Linked DNA regions of Homo sapiens. The protein of the gene in region 3 purifies or fractionates together with the protein of the main gene of each other region. This does not show direct contact. Each region holds a gene or a part of one and is shown on either strand. Other genes may lie near its edges.

The links.
Region 1: the proteins of ANXA9 (region 3) and PLCD1 purify together in Homo sapiens (affinity purification with mass spectrometry; one large-scale study listed by BioGRID and IntAct). This does not show direct contact.
Region 2: the proteins of ANXA9 (region 3) and PKP1 purify together in Homo sapiens (affinity purification with mass spectrometry; one large-scale study listed by BioGRID and IntAct). This does not show direct contact.
Region 4: the proteins of ANXA9 (region 3) and TRIM69 purify together in Homo sapiens (affinity purification with mass spectrometry; 2 studies listed by BioGRID and IntAct, with this or other methods). This does not show direct contact.
Region 5: the proteins of ANXA9 (region 3) and DSG4 purify together in Homo sapiens (affinity purification with mass spectrometry; one large-scale study listed by BioGRID and IntAct). This does not show direct contact.
Region 6: the proteins of ANXA9 (region 3) and ARL8B purify together in Homo sapiens (affinity purification with mass spectrometry; one large-scale study listed by BioGRID and IntAct). This does not show direct contact.
Region 7: the proteins of ANXA9 (region 3) and HEPHL1 purify together in Homo sapiens (affinity purification with mass spectrometry; one large-scale study listed by BioGRID and IntAct). This does not show direct contact.

What each region holds. Positions count from the first base shown.
Region 1 is NC_000003.12:38,006,996-38,009,819, forward strand, and holds the end of PLCD1 (1-phosphatidylinositol 4,5-bisphosphate phosphodiesterase delta-1), read right to left. Parts: intron 2,817-2,824; coding exon 2,658-2,816; intron 2,437-2,657; coding exon 2,277-2,436; intron 2,164-2,276; coding exon 2,047-2,163; intron 1,642-2,046; coding exon 1,463-1,641; intron 1,373-1,462; coding exon 1,240-1,372; intron 1,169-1,239; coding exon 1,019-1,168; intron 864-1,018; coding exon 778-863; 3' UTR 501-777; downstream 1-500. Other genes in the region: VILL (villin-like protein), read left to right, coding at 1-60. UniProt on the Homo sapiens protein: The production of the second messenger molecules diacylglycerol (DAG) and inositol 1,4,5-trisphosphate (IP3) is mediated by activated phosphatidylinositol-specific phospholipase C enzymes. Essential for trophoblast and placental development.
Region 2 is NC_000001.11:201,321,506-201,325,005, reverse strand, and holds part of PKP1 (plakophilin-1), read right to left. Parts: intron 3,029-3,500; coding exon 2,873-3,028; intron 1,994-2,872; coding exon 1,817-1,993; intron 579-1,816; coding exon 425-578; intron 66-424; coding exon 1-65. UniProt on the Homo sapiens protein: A component of desmosome cell-cell junctions which are required for positive regulation of cellular adhesion.
Region 3 is NC_000001.11:150,981,091-150,985,091, forward strand, and holds the start of ANXA9 (annexin A9), read left to right. Parts: upstream 1-1,201; 5' UTR 1,202-1,289; intron 1,290-1,396; 5' UTR 1,397-1,493; intron 1,494-1,999; 5' UTR 2,000-2,015; coding exon 2,016-2,090; intron 2,091-2,247; coding exon 2,248-2,344; intron 2,345-2,884; coding exon 2,885-2,979; intron 2,980-3,190; coding exon 3,191-3,304; intron 3,305-3,495; coding exon 3,496-3,586; intron 3,587-4,001. UniProt on the Homo sapiens protein: Low affinity receptor for acetylcholine known to be targeted by disease-causing pemphigus vulgaris antibodies in keratinocytes.
Region 4 is NC_000015.10:44,739,528-44,743,027, reverse strand, and holds part of TRIM69 (E3 ubiquitin-protein ligase TRIM69), read right to left. Parts: intron 1-3,500.
Region 5 is NC_000018.10:31,411,277-31,414,776, reverse strand, and holds part of DSG4 (desmoglein-4 isoform 2 preproprotein), read right to left. Parts: coding exon 3,329-3,500; intron 1,950-3,328; coding exon 1,182-1,949; 3' UTR 1-1,181.
Region 6 is NC_000003.12:5,128,792-5,132,291, reverse strand, and holds part of ARL8B (ADP-ribosylation factor-like protein 8B), read right to left. Parts: exon of another isoform or gene 3,477-3,500; intron 1-3,476. UniProt on the Homo sapiens protein: Small GTPase which cycles between active GTP-bound and inactive GDP-bound states.
Region 7 is NC_000011.10:94,066,354-94,069,853, reverse strand, and holds part of HEPHL1 (ferroxidase HEPHL1 precursor), read right to left. Parts: intron 2,884-3,500; exon of another isoform or gene 2,559-2,883; intron 2,420-2,558; exon of another isoform or gene 2,359-2,419; coding exon 2,104-2,358; intron 1-2,103. UniProt on the Homo sapiens protein: Is a copper-binding glycoprotein with ferroxidase activity. It oxidizes Fe(2+) to Fe(3+) without releasing radical oxygen species. May be involved in the regulation of intracellular iron content.

The DNA.
Region 1 (2,824 bases), on a different chromosome or scaffold from region 3:
TTCTACAGCATGGCCACGTGGAGGCAGCGGCAGGAGAAAAAGCAGCTGGGCTTCTTCTGAACCCAAGCCCTCTCGACTGCCCCTATCCCCTGGACCCCAACATACCTACAATGCTGGGGAGGCCCTGCTTCCACTCCCCTCAGAGGCTTTTGGTCATCCTCTGCGTGTCAGTAAAAGCAGGCAGCCCATACGAGCTGTGGTATGCGTGCTTTCAAGCCCGGGCCACTCAGCAGGTCCACCTCTCAGGGGAAGGGGCCTCCAGGGCTGGCGGGTGTGAGCTCTCAGTGCCACCCCACAGAGGGGTTTATTTCTCGTTGGTCTCTCCAGATACCCCTGCCCTACTCAACTATGTGCAAGGAAGGTGGAGAGTGAGGTGCTAGGGCTCCAGCACTCTAGGACATGGGGACACACACACACACACACACACACACACACACACACACACACACACACGCTTCACAGGGGATTTTTCTGGCATCCAGGTAAAGAGACCACAAGGCTTAATCTTATCGTGATTTTTATAAAAATCCTTGACCACTCGCTGGCCGGAGGGTGGAGAGGGCTGCAGTGTTATTCCTAACGGAATGAAGGACAGCTCCAGGGACTGGGCTAGCTCCTGGTCCCCAGGGAGGCAGCAGCAGACACTATGTTAGGGCTGAAGGCAATTTGGGGGCCTAGCTCTGAGCAAGAGGCTGGGAGCAGCCACACCAGCCCTGTCCCCACATGTGGACAGAGGGCCCAGCCCACTCAGGGGGGACCCCACTGGCTTCCTCCAGCCTAGTCCTGGAGGGAGATCTTCACAAAGAGGGTGGCTGATGGATGCTGGTCCCCGTTCTTAGACATGAGGTGGACATGGCGGTATCCTGGTGGGTGGACAGGCAGGAGGGAACACAGAGAGAGTTCTGGTCATTCGGCGGCGGAGGGGGGGTGGATGCGTCAAGGGACAGCCAGCCCCAGCCCAAGAGACGCCAGGCCCTGCTTCCCACCACCTTGGCCATCCCCTTCTCTTGACACTCACCTTGCTTGAGGCTGTTCAAGGGGATGGTACTCTGGCCAATGAAGTCATTCTTGGAGGAGGCATCATAATCTTCCACCAAGAAGCGGATGAGGGCAAGGTCAGGCACAACTACCTCAAACGCAAACTCCGTGTCCCACCATGGGTTGAAACCTAGGGGGACAGGCACCATATCAGCAGCATGGACACCAGCCCTAGTAGCCCAGCCCAGGCCCAGCACCTACCATTGTTGGTGATGACAGCAGTCTGGCGGCTGGCCACGTCCCGGCTCACGCCATGGATCTCCACTGTCACTTTGGGGTCCACAATTGAATTCTTATTCTTGTTGACTTTTGGCAGCTGCTGCCCCGAAATGACCTGAGGAAAGGCAGAGGACAATGGACAGTTCAGGAGTGGTAGCGGGGAAGGGAGGTCCGTGGGCACCTGTCCCTCCTAGGTCCAGCGTACCCTGATGTTGAGCCGCTTCCGTGCCCACCAGGGCCCCTGAGCCAGGGCGCGGGGGTTAAAGGTGCCGTTGGGGTCTCGCAGGAAGGCGGGCTTCAGCACGTACCCACAGGCCCCGTTGTCCTGGAAGCGGCCCTGGTACACGTCCATCTCTGGCCCAGGTGTCTGGAAATTCAGGGCCACTACAGGCAGGACAGAGCAGTCACAGGCTGTGGGCTGGCCCTGGGGCCCTAGAGCACAGCCTGCTCAGGGTACACTAAGGCCTAGGGTCACATGGTGAGTTAGCAGGGCCCAGCATCACTCCAATGCCTGCTGCCCTCCTGCCACCCTCAGTGACCCACCATGCTAACCACACCTTCCATTCCTGGTGTGAGAATTCAAAGGACTAGTGTGCTAATGAGGTTTCAGACACTGTGACATGCTGGTGGGCAGATATTTCCAGACTGATATTACCAGCTCCACAAGCCCCTGCATTTGACCCTGCTTGGGTCCTCAGAGCTCCACTGCATGGCCTTCGAGGCTCCAGGCCCCCGGCCTTGGGACTGAAACCCTCCTCCAGGCCTCCTCCAGCCCCAGCCAGCCCATACCGATCTGGCAGCCCCCATTCCACATCTCCACGGGGCTGTAGTTGGAGGAGTCTGTTCTCCATCCAGCCGGGTAGATTCTGCTCAGGTGCCCCACGTTGTGGCGGACAAAGCCGTTTCCTGAGGGGAGGTGTGGTTCGGTCAGCAGTGGAGGCCTCCTGGTGAGGCCCAAGCCCTGCCCTGCCAATTCTCTCTGTAACAGAGCAGGGGAGTGGTGGGGAGCCAGGCCTCACCTGATTCTTGGAGCAGTCGAAGGGCACGGTTCTCAGAGAAGGACGCCATCTCGTAGAAGGCCTGTCCAGGGGTGCCAGGACTGGAGAAGCCCCCAAAGTGGACACTCTTGCAGTAAATGACCATGTCAGAGAGCTCCTGTGCTAGCCTGAGCTTGTCCTCCTGGGGAACACGGGGAGGCCCGGGTTAGATTCAGTGGTTGGGGTAGGGTAGGCACTGAGAAAGCCAGAAACCCAGGCGCAGAGAGACAGAGGGAGACAGACAGAGAGAGCGGGGCAGAGGGTCTGAGTGGCAGCCACAGAGAACTGAGACAAGGCAGACCTCCCACGGGTGAGGGGATGGGGAAGGCCCGGGCTGCCCCACCCCACAGCTCCCCCTCAAACCTTGGGCTTGTGCTGCACACGGCTCCTCACTGCCTCATCCTCCATCTCAGCAGCCTCGTCTTCGTCTGACACCACAGTGGCCTCAGGGCCACCCTCCCCTCCAGGGGGCAGGAGCCCCCCGAGCTTCTTCCCCTTCAGCAGGATCTTCCCCTTCAGTTGCTAGGTGG
Region 2 (3,500 bases), about 50 Mb from region 3:
GGAGTTGCTGGTATTGCCAGTGTGGCTGGTGAGGAGCCTGGTCACCTCCGGGAACACCTGGTTCCCTGGGAGAGGAACGAGTTGGGGCACAGGGTCAGGATGACTGGGGAAGGAAGGGCTGAGGGGTTCCCTCTGGGGCCACACTCTTCGATAGCCTTCTGCCGGGCTCTGAGCCAGGTGGCCCTCAGGGCTTCCTGGCAGCTCCAACTCAGGGCTCAGAGACCCAGATAGGACTTTTGCAGATCTGCTCCCAGCCCTCAGGTGACAGGCTCCCTTCTCCTGTCTCCATACCTGTCTTTGGCCAGCTTCCTTTCTTGGAATGCTCATCCCAGGGAATGGCTTAAAGGATGACCTTCAAGCAGGCTTGAATTGTAGGGAGCCTGCCATGTCTTAGCTAGAGGGGGAGGAGAGAGAGGGACCTTACCCATCACTCTGTGCAGCAGAGGGTGGCGGGACATGTTGCTCAGGAGGGAGGCTCCGGACCGCACCACATCAGAGTTGCCAGATTGCAGGAGGCGGGCAATTTGTGGCAGGCCCTTTTCCTTCAGCCCAATCAACTGGCTCATGCCACTGGACATCTAAGAGAGAAGGAGTAGATGATGAGCTAGCCTGTGGCTTCCCAGGCACCATGGCAGGCAGAAAGGGGCAAGGAGCCCCAAAGGCAGACATCCCAGAACCCTTTCTCTTTCATATTGGAAGCACTAGCTCACATGTGGGCAACTACAGAAACCTAGGCTAACATGCACCTCCCCTTTCCCAGCCCTGATCCTGTCTCCTGGATCAGCCTGCAGCCCAGATGGGTGGAGAGAGGGAAGTCTCATTTCCCCTACTCATAGTGACCCAGAGTTAGCTTCCAGAGTAACCCAAGCGTCCAATGCTGCTCTCTCACCCCACTGTCTCAGCGCTGCCCCCATTACATCTCCCCACGCTATCTGCCCATGTGAAACTATATGGTCAAGGGTATTTGTCAATTAAACATCTGGCCATCTTCTTCCAACTTTCCTACCTCTTTAGAATCCAACACATATTTGTTGAGGGCTTGCCTGAGAAAAGAGGGCTAAGAAAGGGTCTGGGCCCACATGGAGAGAGAACTGGGGTCCCCTAGAGGTAGGCCAGTTCGCCCAGGCCTCTAAGCAACATAGCTATCCTGGGTGTAACAGGTCTAGGTGGGTTTGGCATTCTCAGAACTGCCCAGCCTCTCTCCTCACAGCCAGGGAAGTTCTCTGCCCTCGGTCTACTCTAGTGCTGCTGCTGCTCGGTTCCCTTTTCCTAAGTAAAGCTGAAGAACAGTTGGCCGCCTGGCCCATCTCAACTCTTCTTGATTGCAACAGGTTTCCTCTGGCTCTGCCCCATACCACTGTGCCCTCCAAGCTACATACATTTGGCCTCAACATCTGCACGGATTCTGTCACATCTTCTCTGGACCTGCTTGGACCCCAAACCCTCTTTTTCCACCTTTGTCAGTTCAACAAATGGGAAACTCCTTTTGCCAAACACCTTCTCCGCCGCATTCCCCGACCTCAAGCAGAGCCCAGGAGGCCAGCTGGGGACCGGGAGCCATGTGGCCAAGGGGATTGTGTGTGCATGGACAGAATCCAGCATCAGTGGGCCCACCCTCTCTGCATCCCCCAGCAGCTCCTAAAGGGCAGGAGTGTTTCCCCATTGCCCAGCCCAGAGCCCAGCATATGCCAGGCACACTCTGCTCATGGGAGGCTCCGAAGTCAGGGGACAGGCTGGGGGGAAAAGGAGGGAGCAGAGGCTGGACGGTGGCTGGAGGATGGGGCTGCTGCAGTAGAGAAGGTACAGTCCCACTCACCAGCCCCTTGCTGGCTGTCAGGTTCTGCAGGGCACCAGCACAGGCCTCCAGGGTAGCATCTTTCTTGCTCTTGCCCATGAGGTTCAGGTAGGTGCGGATGGCATCTGAATGGTACAACCAGCCGCTGCCCTTGGGGTTGGTCTCTTCCTCAGGCAGGGGGCAGTCATAGTTGTTGTTCTGAGGATAAAGAGCCGGTCAGGGGGGTCAATGGGGAGCCTTGTGAGAGGACACAACCCAGGCATTCTGTCCCCATCCCCCCAGCCTCAGGGTCGTGGTTCCAGATAGGGCAAGCTGAGGAAGCGCCTGCAGAGGCAGGGGGCCCAGGACAGCCCCGCTGCACCCCTTTCCTCTATGCACTGCAGCAGCTCCATGGGATGCAGGAATGGGCCATGGTCCCCCAGACTGTCCCAGGATGTGGGAGAAGAGAGCATCCTGGCATCTTGGGAGCTGTGTTCCAGGGCAGCCTTGGCCCAAACCTTCCAGATATGTGGGGCTGCTTTGGACTCTCCCATCATGATGCTTCCTCCTCTTCCAGACTCAGACAGTAGGTTTGACCCACCCTGGGCCAAAGAGGGTGGTCTGAGACCTGGATTCCACAGCTGGGCCCAGTGAAGGAGACCTGACAACCCATCCCTGGTAGGCTTCTGCTTCTGGGGAAACCTGGCAGGGCTCAGGAGATGGTGGGAACCAAGGCCAGAAAGAGTGAGAGTTCTGGCTTTCCTCAGATCCTCAAGGGCAAGGGAGAAGATGGGGGAGACTTGACCCACTATACAGGAAGAAAGACCAAGGCCTGCAAACAGAAGGCTGGAGTTTTTGACCTCTAAGGTGGTCTGAGCCCCTACAGTTCCAAGAACAGATTCCCCCTTGTGCAAGATGAATGGCCTCTACCCAGCTCCCAGAGTGCACCCTGAGCCCCAGGCCAAGGTGTCAGCATGGGCCTGTCCCTTAGGGCTGGCTTCAGGCTCCAGGAGGGCCCAGAGGAAAGGGCAGATGAGGCAGTGGCTCCTGGGGGGGTGCTTGATGGGGCAGGCCCCGCCCTGCTGATGCTGTGCTCACCATCATCTTGTCGCTCTTGTTGCTGAAGCAGCCAGTGGAGGACTTCTCGGTGTAGGCGTTGCGGGCGTTATACTCCAGCTGGCGGTAGCGGGTGGGCACCTCGGCGTCCAGGCGGTAGGAGAGGTTGTGCAGAACACACATGCAGTTTTCCACAGACTGGGGACCAAGGAGAGGCATGGGCCTGAGCCTCTGCCCGGCCCGACAGGCTCCTGGCCTACCACCTACCCTAGCTAATAAGAGAGCAGAGGCACCTGGGCTGCATCGGGAAAGATGAGCGCAGGCACCACCACACTATCAGCCTGGGAAGTCTTCCAGGGCCACCTCTGGGACCTGAGTTTGAATCTGTCATTTCCTGGCTGCATGAACTTGACTGGCCTCACTTCTCTGGGCCTCAGCTATCTCAAATGTAAAATGAGACTACAATTGTCCATTTCACTAGGCTATTTGGAAGATGATACAGAGAAAGCACTTATCACAGGGCCTAGTGTGTGGTAGGACTGCTATGGACAACATGCCAATGGGCAGACTGGGATATTGAAGAATGTGTCTTTTTTTTTTTCCAGAACAAACTCCTCCAGAAGAAGCCCCATGCCTCTAGATTCCAAAGCCATCTAGTGCCCCCATCATT
Region 3 (4,001 bases):
GAAGCTTACAGAACATAGGTGGCAGAGCTGGATATTGAACCCTCATTCTCCAGTTCTGACACAGGTGCATGTTTTCCTTTTAACAGGAGAGAAAAGTGAGGAGCAGTGATTACCGCCACAGAAATATCCTTTCATGGCGTGTCCTCCGGCATGGTCTACTCAGTGTGGTGGAGCCACTGCAGGTCCCTCCTCCAGGGATGTAGGAATGCCAGTGAAGGCCTTCCTGAGTTGGGAGAGAGGCAGAGGAGTGAGTGGAGGCAGGGCTGTAGCTTCTGTGCCCCGCCCCTACCCAGGCTCTCCAGGGAGGCAGGAAAGAGGCTGTGTTTAGACCTGAGGGAGCCAGCTGTGAGGCTGGAGCAGTTGCTGCATGGCGGGGCGGGGGCTCCACAGGGCTGTTCACCTGCTGCTCTGTGCAGAGACAGCCTCAAGTCCAGCTGCTGGGGTTGCATCACCTGCAGCTAAAACAGCCACAGGGCCCAGGCTGCCAAAAGGCAACAGAAGCAATCTAAGAAACCAGGCAAGGGAGCCTCCCCCATCTCCCTGTTGCCTTTTGGGAGCATAGAGCTTCCCTCTGAAGGTAACACCCTTTGCATTTTTCTCTCTTGACTCTGTTCATCAACTTCCACTCCCAAATACTTGTGCCCTTCCTTCTCCACAGATATACACAATCCCTGGGCACTCTCCACCTAGGTCAGCTGGCTCTAGTAAGGCAGCAGTCAAGGGAGTTTCTGGGCTGGGACCCCCTCTGGGGTGCAGGCTGGGGTGCCCTGCTGGTATGTGCCCCAACAGGTTTTTCCCTATCAGCCTTGAAATCAGCCTGCAGCCTGTCTGACCTGCCCCCCAGGGAGCTGGAGCCAGAGGCAGAGCCAGGTCAGAAGCTGGGGCAGAGCCAGGTCAGAAGCTGGACTTTGAGACTAGGTCTCTGTGGTCCCACCTGGACCCACAGGGAAGGCAGTGCATAAAAGCCTCCTGTGTTTGAGGCTGAGCCGCTGAGAGGCTGAGTGGAGTTCACTCACATGGATTGAGGCCCAGTTCCTGGGAGAAGAGATGCTGGGCAGGAAGGTGTCTGCATGTGGGACTCTGTACAGCCCGGTCCTCTCCCACGTCTGGGAGGGGCCAGAGTCAGACAACTGCTGGGTTCGTCCCTAAGAGAGGTCATCTGACTGGCTGTTCAGCCTAGGCTGCACACACCCCCACTTTCCTCTACCAGGCCACACCGGAGGCAGTGCTCACACAGGCAAGCTACCAGGCCACAACAACGACACCCACCTCACCTCTGGCACCTCTGAGTAAGTACTGGGCCCACGGCCCCATGCCAGGAGGGCTTGTTGATTGCTTGGGGGAGGGAAAAATGAGTTTTCCTTTTCCAACATGAGAGTGCCTCCTTTCTGTCCAGGCATCCACGTACTTGCAAGAACTCTTGCTCACATCAGCTAAGAGATTGCACCTGCTGACCTAGAGATTCCGGCCTGTGCTCCTGTGCTGCTGAGCAGGTAGGCAGCTGTACAGGCAGGAATTGAGGGTTGCTTGTCAGCTGGGGCTGCCGGTGGGGGAAGATGCTATTTCGAGTTGTCTTCCACTCTGCGTGGTTAATCCTGCCACCTCACCTCAGCTCCCCTGCACTGCCCAGGAGACCCCAGCCAGGCCCAGGAAGGAGGGCCATAGACCTCAGAAGGGAGGCATCTACCGCGGACCAAGGCCTGAGGAGCTTTGGTGCTGACCCTGGCATCAGGGAGGGTTGGCGCCTGGTCCAGGAGCATTCCGCATCAATCCCCACTTCCTAAAGGAGTGGGGAGAGGTGGGGAAGGTGGGGGCTCCCCTCTTACCTCACCATTTCAGCTCCATTTCTGGCTCCAAGCCTAAGCAGGTTGATCTTTTTTTCTGCAGCAAGGAAAGGAACAGGTGACTGGAACCCAGGGTCCAGGGTCTCGGGGGGGTCATAAGGAGTCCCTGAAGGGCCAGGAAATTCAGCTCTGTGGGCTCCTGTTTCCTTCCCCAGGGCAACCAGTAGCACCATGTCTGTGACTGGCGGGAAGATGGCACCGTCCCTCACCCAGGAGATCCTCAGCCACCTGGGCCTGGCCAGCAAGGTAGGGGCTGTTGGGATTTTAGAGATCACTTTTAGTATCTCAGCTCGGGCTGTGAGAGGATGGGAGGCAGGAAAGTGGAGGACAGGCCCTGAGGTTATGCTGAGGAGGTGTAGGCAGCCTGGCCCTGGCCCTTGCCAACTACCCTGTGCTCCCACAGACTGCAGCGTGGGGGACCCTGGGCACCCTCAGGACCTTCTTGAACTTCAGCGTGGACAAGGATGCGCAGAGGCTACTGAGGGCCATTACTGGCCAAGGTGAGCCCCTTTCCCCCGGCACTTGAGACTGCCTTTTAGAGCCAATCTGTAGACCAAGGAGGAGCCAGGAAGGAGGAACTAGTGATGTTGGAGAAATGTTTGTGGAATGCCTTCATTCTTGTATGTCAGGCGCCACAGTAGGTGTGTCAAACCCATTCTCACAACACCCCTGTGAGGCAAGGCTTATTATTTCCATTTTCCAGATGAGGAAACTGGGGCTCAGGGAGATTAAGAGGCTTGCCCAAGGTCACTCAGCTCATGACGGAGGTGGTATTCTCATCTAGGTCAGCCGATCCCCCCAAGTCGTATTTTTTTTTAACCACCACACCAGGCCACCTTTGCCTTGGTCTGGGTCAGATTTGCATGCTGTTTTGACATTTTATTTGCAACTTCTTTTGAGATAAAATGGAAGTGGGGGTGATATAGCCCCTGCTCCTTTCCTTCCCAGCCCTCTCCTGGAGCGCCTTCCCTCCTCCAAGGAGTAGGAACATCCCACTATGTAAAGACCCTGCTCACAGCACAGCCCTCATCTCGGTTCAGGCGTGGACCGCAGTGCCATTGTGGACGTGCTGACCAACCGGAGCAGAGAGCAAAGGCAGCTCATCTCACGAAACTTCCAGGAGCGCACCCAACAGGTGAGGCCATGCTGACCTCCCACAGCAGTGGACTGGGGTGAGAAACCCCCTGGAGGACTCGAGAGACAGCAACAGCCGCTGAGGCCAGCCCCTGCTTCCTGGCTAAACAGGGCCTGAGATGAAAACCAGCCAAATCTTCCCAAACCTCCCCACACTTCTGGGGCCCTTCCCCTCACCCCCGTCCCTCTGCTGTGAGGACCATTTATTGTAGGACCTGATGAAGTCTCTACAGGCAGCACTTTCCGGCAACCTGGAGAGGATTGTGATGGCTCTGCTGCAGCCCACAGCCCAGTTTGACGCCCAGGAATTGAGGACAGCTCTGAAGGTAGCAGGAGGGGAGACTTGCTGGGGTGTCTGGGGAAGGGAGAAGGCTGTCAGCCTTGCTTTTGCAAGACGAGAGTCCCCCTCTCGTCGTCCCATATTGTTTCTTAGAAGGAGAAGCAGCCAGCGTCTGCCCCTCTGTCTGCCATCCTAATGACACGGCCAGTCTGAGAGTAGACTCCCAATTTCTTGTAGGCCTCAGATTCTGCTGTGGACGTGGCCATTGAAATTCTTGCCACTCGAACCCCACCCCAGCTGCAGGAGTGCCTGGCAGTCTACAAACACAGTAAGAATATAGAGGGAGGGGTCCCAGATGCTGGAGAAGGGGCTGTAGGACAGGCCACTCCTCTCCTGTACTCCCCATAGGTGAGCTATCTGGCAACCTGGCTGCCTAAGTTCTATTCCCTTGGGGTCTTTCCTCTTGCCCCCACCAGTGCCTCAGTCTCTCAGGGGAGAGACCCAGATGTGATCATTAAAAAAAGAGAAGCAGGCCAGGTACGGTGACTCATGCCTGTCACCCCAACACTTTGGGAGGCTGAGGTGGGCAGGTCACTTGAGCCCAGGAGTTCAAGACCAGTCACAGGCAATAAAGGAAAACCTCATCTGTGCTAAAAATTCAAAAAAACCAGCTGGTCATGGTGGTGTGCGCCTGTGGTCCCAGCTACTCAGGAGTTTGAGGTGGGAGGATCACCCCAGCTTGG
Region 4 (3,500 bases), on a different chromosome or scaffold from region 3:
TTCTTTTGGCTTAGGATTGACTTGGCGATGCGGGCTCTTTTTTGGTTCCATATGAACTTTAAAGTAGTTTTTTCCAATTCTGTGAAGAAAGTCATTGGTAGCTTGATGGGGATGGCATTGAATCTATAAATTACCTTGGGCAGTATGGCCATTTTCACGATACTGATTCTTCCTATCCATGAGCGTGGAATGTTCTTCCATTTGTTTGTGTCCTCTTTTATTTCATTGAGCAGTGGTTTGTAGTTCTCCTTGAAGAGGTCATTCACGTCCCTTGTAAGTTGGATTCCTAGGTATTTTATTCTCTTTGAAGCAATTGTGAATGGGAGTTCACTCATGATTTGGCTCTCTGTTTGTTATTGGTGTATAAGAATGCTTGTGATTTTTGTACATTGATTTTGTGTCCTGAGACTTTGCTGAAGTTGCTTATCAGCTTAAGGAGATTTTAGGCTGAGACAATGGGGTTTTCTAGATATACAATCATGTCATCTGCAAACAGGGACAATTTGACTTCCTCTTTTCCTAATTGAATACCCTTTATTTCCTTCTCCTGCCTAATTGCCCTAGCCAGAACTTTCAACACTATGTTGAATAGGAGTGGTGAGAGAGGGCATCCCTGTCTTGTGCCAGTTTTCAAAGGGAATGCTTCCAGTTTTTGCCCATTCAGTATGATATTGGCTGTGGGTTTGTCATAGATAGCTCTTATTATTTTGAGATACATCCCATCAATACCTAATTTATTGAGAGTTTTTAGCATGAAGCGTTGTTGAATTTTGTCAAAGGCCTTTTCTGCATCTATTGAGATAATCATGTGGTTTTTGTCTTTGGTTCTGTTTATATGCTGGATTACATTTATTGATTTGCGTATATTGAACCAGCCTTGCATCCCAGGGATGAAGCCCACTTGATCATGGTGGATAAGCTTTTTGATGTGCTGCTGGATTCAGTTTGCCAGTATTTTATTGAGGATTTTTGCATCAATGTTCATCAAGGATATTGGTCTAAAATTCTCTCTTTTGGTTGTGTCTCTGCCCGGCTTTGGTATAAGGATAATGCTGGCCTCATAAAATGAGTTAGGGAGGATTCCCTCTTTTTCTGTTGATTGGAATAGCTTCAGAAGGAATGGTACCAGTTCCTCCTTGTACCTCTGGTAGAATTCGGCTGTGAATCCATCTGGTCCTGGACTCTTTTTGGTTGGTAAGCTATTGATTATTGCCACAATTTCGGAGCCTGTTATTGGTCTATTCAGAGATTCAACTTCTTCCTGGTTTAGTCTTGGGAGGGTGTATGTGTCGAAGAATTTATCCATTTCTTCTAGATTTTCTAGTTTATTTGCATAGAGGTGTTTGTAGTATTCTCTGATGGTAGTTTGTATTTCTGTGGGATCAGTGGTGATATCCCCTTTATCATTCTTTATTGCTTCTATTTGATTCTTCTCTCTTTTCTTCTTTATTAGTCTTGCTAGCAGTCTATCAATTTTGTTGATCCTTTCAAAAAACCAGCTCCTGGATTCATTAACTTTTTGAAGGGTTTATTGTGTCTCTTTTTCCTTCAGTTCTGCTCTGATTTTAGTTATTTCTTGCCTTCTGCTAGCTTTTGAATGTGTTTGCTCTTGCTTTTCTAGTTCTTTTAATTGTGATGTTAGGGTGTCAATTTCGGATCTTTCCTGCTTTCTCTTGTGGGCATTTAGTGCTATAAATTTCCCTCTACACACTGCTTTGAATGTGTCCCAGAGATTCTGGTATGTTGTGTCTTTGTTCTCATTGGTTTCAAAGAACATCTTTATTTCTGCCTTCATTTTGTTAGGTACCCAGTAGTCATTCAGGAGCAGGTTGTTCAGTTTCCATGTAGTTGAGCGGTTTTGAGTGAGTTTCTTAATCCTGAGTTCTAGTTTGATTGCACTGTGGTCTGAGAGACAGTTTGTTATAATTTCTGTTCTTTTACATTTGCTGAGGAGAGCTTTACTTCCAACTATGTGGTCAATTTTGGAATAGGTGTGGTGTGGTGCTGAAAAAAATGTATATTCTGTTGATTTAGGGTGGAGAGTTCTGTAGATGTCTATTAGGTCCGCTTGGTGCAGAGCTGAGTTCAATTCCTGGGTATCCTTGTTAACTTTCTGTCTCGTTGATCTGCCTAATGTTGGCAGTGGGGTGTTAAAATCTCCCATTATTATTGTGTGGGAGTCTAAGTCTCTTTGTAGGTCACTCAGGACTTGCTTTATGAATCTGGGTGCTCCTGTATTGGGTGCATATATATTTAGGATAGTTAGCTCTTCTTGTTGAATTGATCCCTTTACCATTATGTAATGGCCTTCTTTGTCTCTTTTGATCTTTGTTGGTTTAAAGTCTGTTTTATCAGAGACTAGGATTGCAACCCCTGCCTTTTTTTGTTTTCCATTGGCTTGGTAGATCTTCCTCCATCCTTTCATTTTGAGCCTATGTGTGTCTCTGCATGTGAGATGGGTTTCCTGAATACAGCAAGCTCCATCAGCTCCTTTAAGCACTTCTCTGTATTGGTTATTCTAGTTATACATTCATCTAAATTCTTTTCAAAGTTTTTAACTTCTTTGCCTTTGGTTTGAATTTCCTCCTGTAGCTCGGAGTAGTTGGATCATCTGAAGCCTTCTTCTCTCAACTTGTCAAAGTCATTCTCCATCCAGCTTTGTTTTGTTGCTGGTGAGGAACTGCGTTCCTTTGGAGGAAGAGAGGCGCTCTGCTTTTTAGAGTTTCCAGTTTTCCTGCTCTGTTTTTTCCCCATCTTTGCGGTTTTATCTACTTTTGGTCTTTGACGATGGTGATGTACAGATGGGTTTTTGGTATGGATGTCCTTTCTGTTTGTTAGTTTTCCTTCTAACAGACAGGACCCTCAGCTGCAGGTCTATTGGAGTTTGCTAGAGGTCCACTCCAGACCCTGTTTGCCTGGGTATCAGCAGCGGTGGCTGCAGAACAGTGGATTTTCGTGAACCGCGAATGCTGCTGTCGATCATTCCTCTGGAAGTTTTGTCTCAGAGGAGTACCCGGCCATGTGAGGTGTCAGTCTGCCCCTACTTGGGGGTGCCTCCCAGTTAGGCTGCTAGGGGGTCAGGGGTCAGGGACCCACTTGAGGAGGCAGTCTGCCCATTCTCAGATCTCCAGCTGCGTGCTGGGAGAACCACTGCTCTCTTCAAAGCTGTCAGACAGGGACATTTAAGTCTGCAGAGGTTACTGATGTCTTTTTGTTTGTCTGTGCCCTGCCCCCAGAGGTGGAGCCTACAGAGGCAGGCAGGCCTCCTTGAGCTGTGGTGGGCTCCACCCAGTTCGAGCTTCCCGGCTGCTTTGTTTACCTAAGCAAGCCTGGGCAATGGTGGGCGCCCCTCCCACAGCCTCGCTGCCGCCTTGCAGTTTGATCTCAGACTGCTGTGCTAGCAATCAGCGAGACTCCATGGGCGTAGGGCCCTCCGAGCCAGGTGCAGGATATAATCTCCTGGTGCACCGTTCTTTAAGCCCGTCGGAAAAGCACAGTAT
Region 5 (3,500 bases), on a different chromosome or scaffold from region 3:
AGTCAGCTTTATGCCTACGAAAAGTAAGCAATGTGTTTCCATTTTATTTATTCAACATAAACAGTAGTGTTGCAAAGAGAAACACAACTTGGTAATGGACTTAAGTAGTTGGTTAATTATTGTTGTTAGGAACTTAAAGCCATATCCCAGAGTTTTATTTTAAGTCTAGAAATGAATAGAAGCTCTATGAAGGCAGAAACCATGTCTGTCTTCTTTACCTGTATATTCACAGAGCCAAGACTAGCACCCAACACCTAGTTGCTTCTAAGTAAATATTGTAGAATATATGAATAACTACAGAGTGCTTTTGGAGAATATCTGGTTGCCAATTGAAAGCTCTACGATTCAGGTCAATGAAATTGGTTAAGCCATATTTCATGTATTTTTCTGACATAATTGGCAACAGTAGGGAAAAAATTCCCTGTAAGTGGGGAAAACTCTAATATTTCCCCAATAACTCTTTCTACTTTAGGATTGTCATTTTTTTTTGCTATTCTAGATTAATTTACAGTTAATCATATAAATCAATAAAGTTCAATAAAAATATATATTTTTCTTTGATGAACCATTTCCAGCCATGCTTTCAGTTGGCAAACTCTTTTCTTATTATATTAAGCATCTCCTATTGCTTAATAGCGCATAATATTGAAAAATCTTTTGAAGAGACAAATGACTTCAGATATCTAAAGATATTGACAGATACTCTACGTTCCTTTTCAATTTCCTTTCAGAATGTACATTTCATTCAACTTTTCAATTAAAAATTTTAATATAAATATTTCCCTAACGAAAAATATGGCTGGTGGATGTAGACAGGGCTTCTTTTGTAACTTCCAAGAACAAGGCATCTTGGTTTACAAGATTGGTTCTACAGGCCTCAAGACCCATAGGATTCACAATATGAGTTATGTGCTATTCGTTAGACAGTATCAAGGGATGCAATACATTTTCTGCACATTTTTTGACGCATTATTTAAAATCAGAAAGAATTTTAAAAAGGCTTATCTAAAGTGCCTAGCCATATTCACCCTCAAAATGGTATAATCAAATAATGGCATTGACCTTAGAATATCTGAGTATTTGTTGACTATTAATATATATGGTACATTATATATTTTTGGTGGATGTATTGATGATTACAAGGTGCAAGGTCTCCACATAGAATACTGACCATAAAGCACTTACTGTTGGGTGTAATGTATGTTACTGTATCGTGTTACTCTGTGTCGAGATGTCATGGGGGATGTGGAGCCAACGGTTTGGCCTATGGGAAGGTCTGGACTCATCATTTGCATCACTTGAATTTCTGGCCCTACTAAAATATTGCCGCTCATCACAGGTCCCATACAACCCTCAGTCGTGCTACTATTGCTCATGTCAGGCACACCAGGACTAGCCAGTACTCTCTCAGCATAGATTACATTGTTGTAATCTGCTAACTCAGCAGGTACACAAATATTCCCTTGAATATCATAGACAGGTGCCATTACTGCTTCGGTTACTACAACATTGGGTGCAAGCTGAGGATCAAAAATAATTGTAGTGGGTTGCACACATGGATCAGCATTACCGTAAGTCTCAGTCACAATAATATCCCCATGGACCACGGGTTCAGATGCTGCCATTTCTTCTTGGAATTCAACTTCTGAGGGAGTCAATCCTGAAGATTCATTAACAAAGTAATTAGGTCCGAGCAAAGGGAGGTCAGTACTGATTGGTATACAAGCCTGGTGTGAAGGAAATGGTTCAATTTCTGTGTTTAAGCAGATCTCAGCAAGAGTCCTAAATTTTGGATCTAAAGTTTCCATGCAGCTTTCATCTAAGTCATCCACAATCCAACTGCAACAACCAATAGAGCCTACGGGAGACCCGACTCCCTCGTGGTCATAAATGAGCAAGCAGTCATTGGCTGGTCGACCTTCATCTTCATCTGCATAAGCATACGCTTTCTAAAATTAAAAGGAAATACAGAATTAGAAATTTCTTTTTCCCTAAAATAAGGAAGAATAACAGCAATCCCTCAGAGAGACTTCTGAGTTAAGTTGTTACGGAATAAACTGAATAATGGTATCAATCACTCATTAAAATAATTGATACTATCCATGCACATTCTGTGATAGCATTTGTAACTACCAATTTTAAGATATAGTTTACAATTGCAACAACATCTTCAGCATTTGTTTGGTAAAGAATCATGGTGAAATTCATGTATGAACAGATGGAGAATAAAGCAGGCCGACTGAAATATGAGATAAAATTCTAGTTCTATTTTAGTTCTTTTAAAATGTGTAATAAATTATTGTTAACTATAGCAATCCTGTTGTGCTACCAAATACTAGATCTTCTTCATTCTAACAGTATTTTTGCACCTATTAACCATCCCACTGTTTCCCCTCCCTACTACCCTTGTCAGCCTCTAGTAACCATCATTCTACTCTCTATCTCCATGAGTTCGGTTTTTCCTTTTAGCTTCCACAGATGAGTGAGAACATGTCAAATTAGTCTTTCTGTGCCTGGCATATTTCACTTAACAGTGTCCTCCAGTTCCATCCATGTTGTTGCAAAATGACAAAATTTCATTTTTTATGGCTGAATAATATTCCATTGGGTATATGAATCACATTTTAGAAGTCCAATCATCAGTTGATGGACACAGGTTGATTCCATGTATTGGCTACGTGACTAGTGCTGCAATAAACATGGGGGTGCATATATTTCTTTGATATACTGATTTCCTTTCTTTTGGATATATACCCAGCAGTGCTATTGCTGGACCCCTTTTCGTAGTGAAGGTCAGTTGGTGGATAAGTCACTGGACTGAGAATAGGAGAGCTATCTTCTAGGTCTTAATCTAGCACGAGTTGTGGTGATGCTGCGTTCCTGAGTTTTAACTCCTTTCGTTCCCAATTCTTTTTATTTTCTCTTTTCTGTTGGAGGCTCCGGGAGAACATGAAGGACATCAAAAACAGAGGTCATAAATGCACCTTTTTTCCCCTTGATGAGCATTTTCCTGCTTTGCTACTGCTGTGGGAAACAAGGTGAGGAATCAAGGAAACAAAAGATAGAAAAATGGAAAAGGGAAGTGGAGAATGATGAGGGGTGTGGCCTTGTTCACGGTACTAAGATGCGCTATGGCAGTTGAATATGAAATCCTGTGGCAAATTAGCATTTTGTGTTTTAAGGAGACGTGAAATACTTTTTATTCAGGTTTGGGATAGGGTTGAGAATAACAGCATATTTCCGAAGAGGCCTACTACCATTGTGAGTATTTTACTATTATTATTATTCAATCTCAAGACGATTTTATGTGTGACTGTGAGGGCATTACCTCCGAGAAGTAGCTGTCCAAGAAAGCCATGTTGATGTCTGCGTCAGCGTAGTCCCGCAGGGTTCCCATGGTAGAGCTCCTCTTCCTTGCGGCCCCTGAGGCTCCTGCGGCCCCTGCGGCCATGAGGCCAACGGCTGTCCCCATACCTGTGTTGAGCTCCACTCCCGATACA
Region 6 (3,500 bases), on a different chromosome or scaffold from region 3:
CAGAGTGAGACTCTGCCTCAAAAAAAAAAATAATAATGATGATCATAGGGAATATGATCAATCCTAACTTAGGGCAATACCTACTACAGAAAGGATGGGAGGACTTAGGCACAGTACAGGCTCATGCCTGTACTCCCAACACTGGGAGGCCAAGGAAGGAGGACAGCTTGAGCCCAGTAGTTCAAGATCAGCCTGAGCAATACAGCAAGATTCCACCTCTACAAAAAAACAAATTTTTTTAATTAGCTGGGCATGACGGCACATGCCTGTAGCCCCAGCTACTCAGGAAGCTGAGGCAGAGGACTGCTTGAACCCAAGAGGTTGAGGCAGCAGTGAGCCATGATTATGCCACTTTACTCCAGTTTGGGTGACAGGGTGAGACCCTGTCTCAAAAAAAGGAAAGAATGACAGAAAAATTCAAAGGATAAAACTAGTCAAATCATTTCATTTCTGAAATTACCGGAACTCTGAAAAAAAGACAAAAACCAAAGTTAAACATTTCAGTCACTTAAGAGTAGAAAATAATGGCAGTAACCAAAATATTCATATAAGGGTTAATGAAAACCTGTAACGTCAATTTAATATTTTTAAGAAACGGGTAGGCTGGGTGCAGTGGCTCACACCTGTAATCCCAGCACTTTGGGAGGCCGAGGTGGGTGGATCACTTGAGGTCAGGAGTTCAAGACCAGTGTGGCCAACATCGTGAAACCCTGTCTCTACTAAAAATACAAAAATTATCTGGCCATGGTGGCGTGCGCCTGTAACCCTAGCTACTCAGGAGGCTGAGGCAGGAGAATCGCTTGAACTCGGGAGGCGGAGGTTGCAGTGAGCCGAGATCGCGCCACTGCACTCCAGCCTGGGTGACAGAGTGAGACTCTGTCTCAAAAAAAAAAAAAATTTTTTAATTTTTTTATTGAAATAAGATTGCCAAAAGCTAGAAACGAAATAGCTAAATTATGAAGGAGAGAAATGTAGGTTTCCTTTCTTTTCCTAGATTTTCCTCTGATAAGAACTATTTACAAATGATGAAGTCCATGTATTGGCATTAAAACATTCTCCGGACAAAATGAGCTTTCAAGAAAATGGTGGCCGGGCACGGTGGCTCACACCTGTAATCCCAGTACTTTGGGAGGCTAAGGCGGACAGATCACAGGAGTTTGACACCAGCCTGGCCCACATGGTGAAACCTCGTCTCTACTAAAAATACAAAAATTAGCTGGGCGTGGTGGCGGGTGCCTGTAGTCCTAGCTATTCGGGAGGCTGAGGCAGGAGAATCACTTGAATCCCCGTGCCACTGCACTCCCAGCATGGATGACAGAGTGAGACTCCATCTCAAAAACAAAAAAAGAAAAAGAAAAAAAAGAAAAGAGCGAAGAAAAGGCAGGCCTAACTATGTGTGTAGCCTAGATTTTAAGCAACCTCATTCTTAACATTATGCTACATTTTGCATACTGAAGTAAGAATATAGGTTCATAGGCTGGGCGTGGTGGCTCATGCCTGGGCCGAGGCGGGCGGATCACTTGACGTCAGAAGTTCAAGACTCGCCTGGCCAACGTAGCGAAACCCCATCTCTACTAAAAATACAAAAAATAGCCAGGCGTAGTGGCGCAAGCCTGTAATCCCAGCTACTGGGGAGAGGCTGAGGCAGGAGAATCATCTGAACCCAGGAGGCAGAGGTTACAGTCAACCGAGATCATGCCACTGCCCTTCAGCCTGGACAACAAAGCAAGATTCCATCCCCCCGCCAAAAAAAAAAACACACACACACACAAGCAAGCAAGCAGCATCCCACTATAATAGGTCCAAGATTAGGTAAGGATTATACTGAAATATATCAGGGTTATGGAATATGCAATCTACCAATACTTCTAAAACAAAATAGCAGCATGATAAGTAAAGGGGATGAGCTGTATTTATATTTACATGGCTTGCCTGGGAAGCTCAACAAAAAAGAACTATGTTCTCAGGGGCAGGCGTGGTGGCTCCTGCCTGTAATCTCAGCACTTTGGGAGGCTGAGGCAGGAGAATCTCTTGAGCCCAGGAGTTCCGGGACCAGGCTGAGCAACACAGTGAGATGAAGTCTCTACAAAAAAAAAATATATATTTTTTTTTAAGAGAATATGACCTTGGTCAGGTGCAGTGGCTCACGCCTGTAATCCCAGTACTTTGGGAGGCCAAGGCAGGCAGATCACCTGAGGTCAGGAGTTCGAGGTCAGCCTTGCCAACATGGTGAAACCCTGTCTCTACTAAAAATACAAAAACTAGCTGTGTGTGGTGGCACGTGCCTGTAGTCCCACCTACTTGGGAGGCTGAGGCAGGAGAATCACTTGAACCCAGGAGGCAGAGGTTGCAGTGAGCCAAGATCATGCCACTATACTACAGCCTGGGTGATAGAGCAAGACTCTGTCTGAAAAACAAAAAAGAGAGAGAGAGAATGTGGAGAATGTGGCCTCACTATGTTGCCCAGGCTGGTCTTCAACTCCTGGCTTCAAGTAATCCTCCTGTCTCTGCCTCCCTAAATGCTGAGATTACAAGCGTGAGCCACCACACCCAGCAGCAAAAATCTTGTTTAAAAAAATTAGCCAGGCGTAGTGACATACGCCTGTGGTCCCTACTACTTGGGAGGCTATGGTGGGGGGATCTCTTGAGCCAGGGCCCAGGAGGTGGAGGCTGCAATAAGCCATGATCATGCCACTACACTCCAGCATGGGCAACAGAGCAAGAACTTGTCTCAGAAAGAATTATGTTCTCTATAGTTATCAGTCTTGGCAGTTGCTGAAATATAAAAAGGAACTTCTTAAAATATATTAAACACAAACAGAGCAGTATCTAATAGGATAATTTTAAAATACCGTTCTACTTCATCAACAAAACTATGTTTGTCCTAAAAAATACCAGAGGACAAAGTGCTTAACCAAAGTCCAACTTTATATATGAAATCTGCTCAGTATTAGCTGGGCGAGGTGGCAAACACCTGTAATCCCAGCTACTTGGGAAGCTGAGGCAGGAGAATTGCTTGAACCCGAGAGGTGGAGGTTGCAGTGTGCCAAGATCACACCACTGCACTCCAGCCTGGGCAACAAGAGCGAGACTCTATCTGGAAAAACAAAAAACAAAAAACAAAAACTGTTCAGACCTTCTCAGTGGGAGTGTACACTTTCTGGAAAGCAATTTGGCCATATGACATAAAATGCGTTTTTGACCCAGAAATACCAACTCTGGAACACATCCTCAGGAAGTGCAGATCAAATTGAGTACAATAGGAAAACATAGGAAAAATCCCTCAAATGTCCAATAAGGGAATTACCAAATATGTTATGGCATATCCACAAGACATACCACAATGGAATAAACTATGAAGACATGAAAAATGTTTTAGATAGAAAAATGCATACACTGTAACAATTAAACCAGAATATAAAGCATTATAAGTAATATTATCTCAGAACTTTTTAAAAGACATCTGGATATACACATTAAGAAGACAAAAACGAAATGCT
Region 7 (3,500 bases), on a different chromosome or scaffold from region 3:
TTTAAAAAAATCATACTCTTTGACCCAGAAATTCTAAATCTAGGAGTTTTTCTAAGAAAATGTTCAGACAAAAGTGCAAACATCTATAAATAATAGTCATCAGTGCTGTTTATAATAGCAAAAAAATTGGTGGGAAACATAAGCATTAAGCAATAGAGTATTGATTAAGCAAGATGTAATCTCCTTATAATGGACACTGGAAGTATTAACCATGATGAAGTAAGCTCTATATTCACCGACATGAAAATGTGTTTCTGATATATTTGTAAATGAGAAAAATTAGCTACAGTGCAGCATTAATAGACTGATTTCATTTTTTAAAATACATATATATTTACATATTAAGAAATAGAAAATAGGGAAGATATTCACCAAAATGTGAATATAAAATATTTCTATTATGGAACTACTGATTTTAAAACCAATTTATAGGGGCCAGATCCAGTGGCTCATGCCTATAATCCCAGCACTTTGAAAGGCTAAGGTGGGAGGATTGCTTGGGCCCAGGAGTTTGAGACCAGCCTGGGCAACATAGCAAGACCCTGTCTCTATTTGTTAAAAAACCTCCAATTATATGTATTTTCTAATTTTTTTACAATAACTTTTTTCTGAAGGCATGGACAATTTAGAAATACTGTATTTCAGGGAACGTATAAATACTAGCTTATGTCCACAACTATCGGGCTAATTTAGCGATCTTACTAGTCTCAAATGGCAGCTAATATCTTGATTTTAAATCTACAGTTTCTTCCCAGATTTAACAGCATAAGACTCTTTGAGAATAGAAACCTTCTCTTGTTAATCTTTGTTTTCCCAGAAGAGCATCTAGTACATATTAACTGATTAATTTTTCAGTTGAATGTAATTGGGATACTGCAGTTGACTAATGCTATGACTCACTGTGGAAGGTGGACAGGAACAAGAATGTGTTACAAAAGCAGCCCTGAGCAGCTGGATCTTTGCACCTATTAGTGACTATGGGAAGTTAGTATCCAAATATCAGACATTATTTCTTCTGTGTCTATTCCATTAACATATTTTTTCTGTCTTGGTTTCATCATCTTAGGGCAGACGTTTAGGTGTTAGACCTCTAACACTGTCAAATGCTTCTTAACTAGCATCCAGTGGTCAGAATTCCTCCATCAAGTCCTTCTTGCATGCATACATTTATCTTCTTAAATAACTGCACCGATTATGTCACTAGTGTGCCAAAAGAGCTAAGGATCACACAGCCCCACCTCCTTAGCTTTGCTAAGGGGCCTGATGAGCCTCCCAGGCTCTTCTGTCATCACTTCTCTGTAAGGAACATTATGGTCCAGCTAAGAAAGGACATAGTGTATGATGTCTGAAGAAACCAGGACCAGGTCATTCAACAGGCATTTAAGCCAACAAATGTTTATCATGCACCTATCATAGGACATGAAGGAAGCTATAGGTCAATGGATTTTGTCTCAATTTGAGGAAGAACATTCCAATAGAGCAGTCCAGAGATGAGATGAGCTGCTATAACTACTCACAAGAGATGTTCAAAACGAAATTAAATAATTCGAGGGGGGATTGGTCCTTATTATCCAGAAAGTCCTTTCCAGTGCTAAAACCTTATTACTCTACTTACAGTTGCTCAAAAAGAACATGTGTTTTTCCCAGTTCATGCTGCTTCCTCAAAAGTCTTTCTTTCCTTCTTCATCTATTCAGTTCCTACTCATATTTCAAGGCTCATGTTAGGAGCCAGCTCCTCAGGAAGCCCCTCTGATTGCTCCAGAGTAGTGACTGCAACACCCAAAGAGCATTTATCTCATTCTGCCTTAAATCGTATTCATTTTGTGAATGTCTAACTATGTCTAACAACTATACTACAGGTTCCTCGAAGGTCTCATCAATTTTTAATCACTTCCCCACTTTTTTCATACAGAAGTGGTCAATAAATATCTGTTGATAGAATATCAAAGAGATGAGCGTTATATTTTCCTGTATATTTATTACCTAATTAAATATAGTACATACAAGGCTCTATCTAACAGTAGGTACTGGATGAGCACTAGTGACTGTGTGGTTTGATTGTACCATTCTAAACATATCAACTCTGGTCTTTATCCTTTTTACCTTGTAGGTGGTCGCTGACCTGGCAGGTTATCATCCACTTCCCAGGATTCTCGGCTATCATTTCTGTTGTAAGGAAGGTGGCTGGGAACAGGTTGACGACATCAGTCCGATGCCCTCTGCTGATGAAGGTGTTACCATAGAAATAGATAGAATGGATGTCTATTTCATTCCCCATTCCAAATAGGTGCCAGGACACAGATTCTCCAACACACATATCAGGCTCCGGGAAGTTTCCGAAGAGGTATCCATTGAGGGCTGGAAACAGAAACACGCTAGTGGAAGAGACTCCCCTGCAGAGGCGACTGGGACCAGAAATGTTGGTAATACGGGCTTAAGCATGGCTGGAAAACCAGTGCAGACCATTGGTTGTAAGGTTTTGGTGCAGAAAAACCTGGCTCTTAGAAATATATATTGTCCAAAAGAGAAATGAAATGTTTTTATTGGCCTTTTTCCAGAGAAAACACTCAATAAAAGTGAAGATCAGCATACACTGAGAACAGCCTCGGAGCTGCTGTGGGAACGCAATATGAGGTCAGGAGAAAACAGAGTGCTGCTCATATTTACAGGAGGCTCAGTCACCTTCTGTCATAATCCTTCACTGGCATATCTGCTGTCTTCACCAGATTCTGTGCTCCTTGGAACTAGAAACCCTGTCTTGTTCATCTTAACAGTTATCAGGACCTAGCAGAAAAACTGGCACATAGTATCTACTTAATGAAGTGACAAAAGCATGTAGTAAGATGGAAAGAAAAGGAATTGATTAAAAGGAATTTATGAGAACTGTTTTGTTTGTTTGTTTGTTTACTTTAAAAAGCCAAGAGAAAAACAGTTTTTACTACATGTTGCTGGAGCAGAATCTTATTAAGTTTATGGCGTAAATCCAGGACCGAATACTTTAAAACCATCTAAATGGCAGCTGGGAGTTGACCAAGTTCAGAAAAGAACTTGATTCAGGGCTTTAAAAAGTCACAATATCCCTTCTTAAGTTCGAACTGAGTTAAAAGCAATTGTTGCTGAAATGCCTGATGACTTAGGCAGCACAATTAATTCTAAATTATTTTAGTAAATTTAAATAAATTGATCAATAAAACTTGTACATATTAATTATCTTCCATAGTCTAGATTTTTTTAATTAAATTTTTTCCTTTACTTGATTAGGTCTCTTTTTCCAGTCTCTCTCTCTTTTTTTTCTTTTGAGATGGAGTCTCGCTCTGTCACACCCAGGCTGAAGTGCAGTGGCACAATCTCAGCTCACTGCAACCTCTGTCTCCTGGGTTCAAAAGATTCTTGTGCCTCAGCCTCCCCAGTAGCTGAGATTACAGGTGCCCACCACCATGACCAGCTAATTTTTGTATTTTTAGTAGAGACAGGTTTTGCCATGTTGGCCAGGCTGGTCT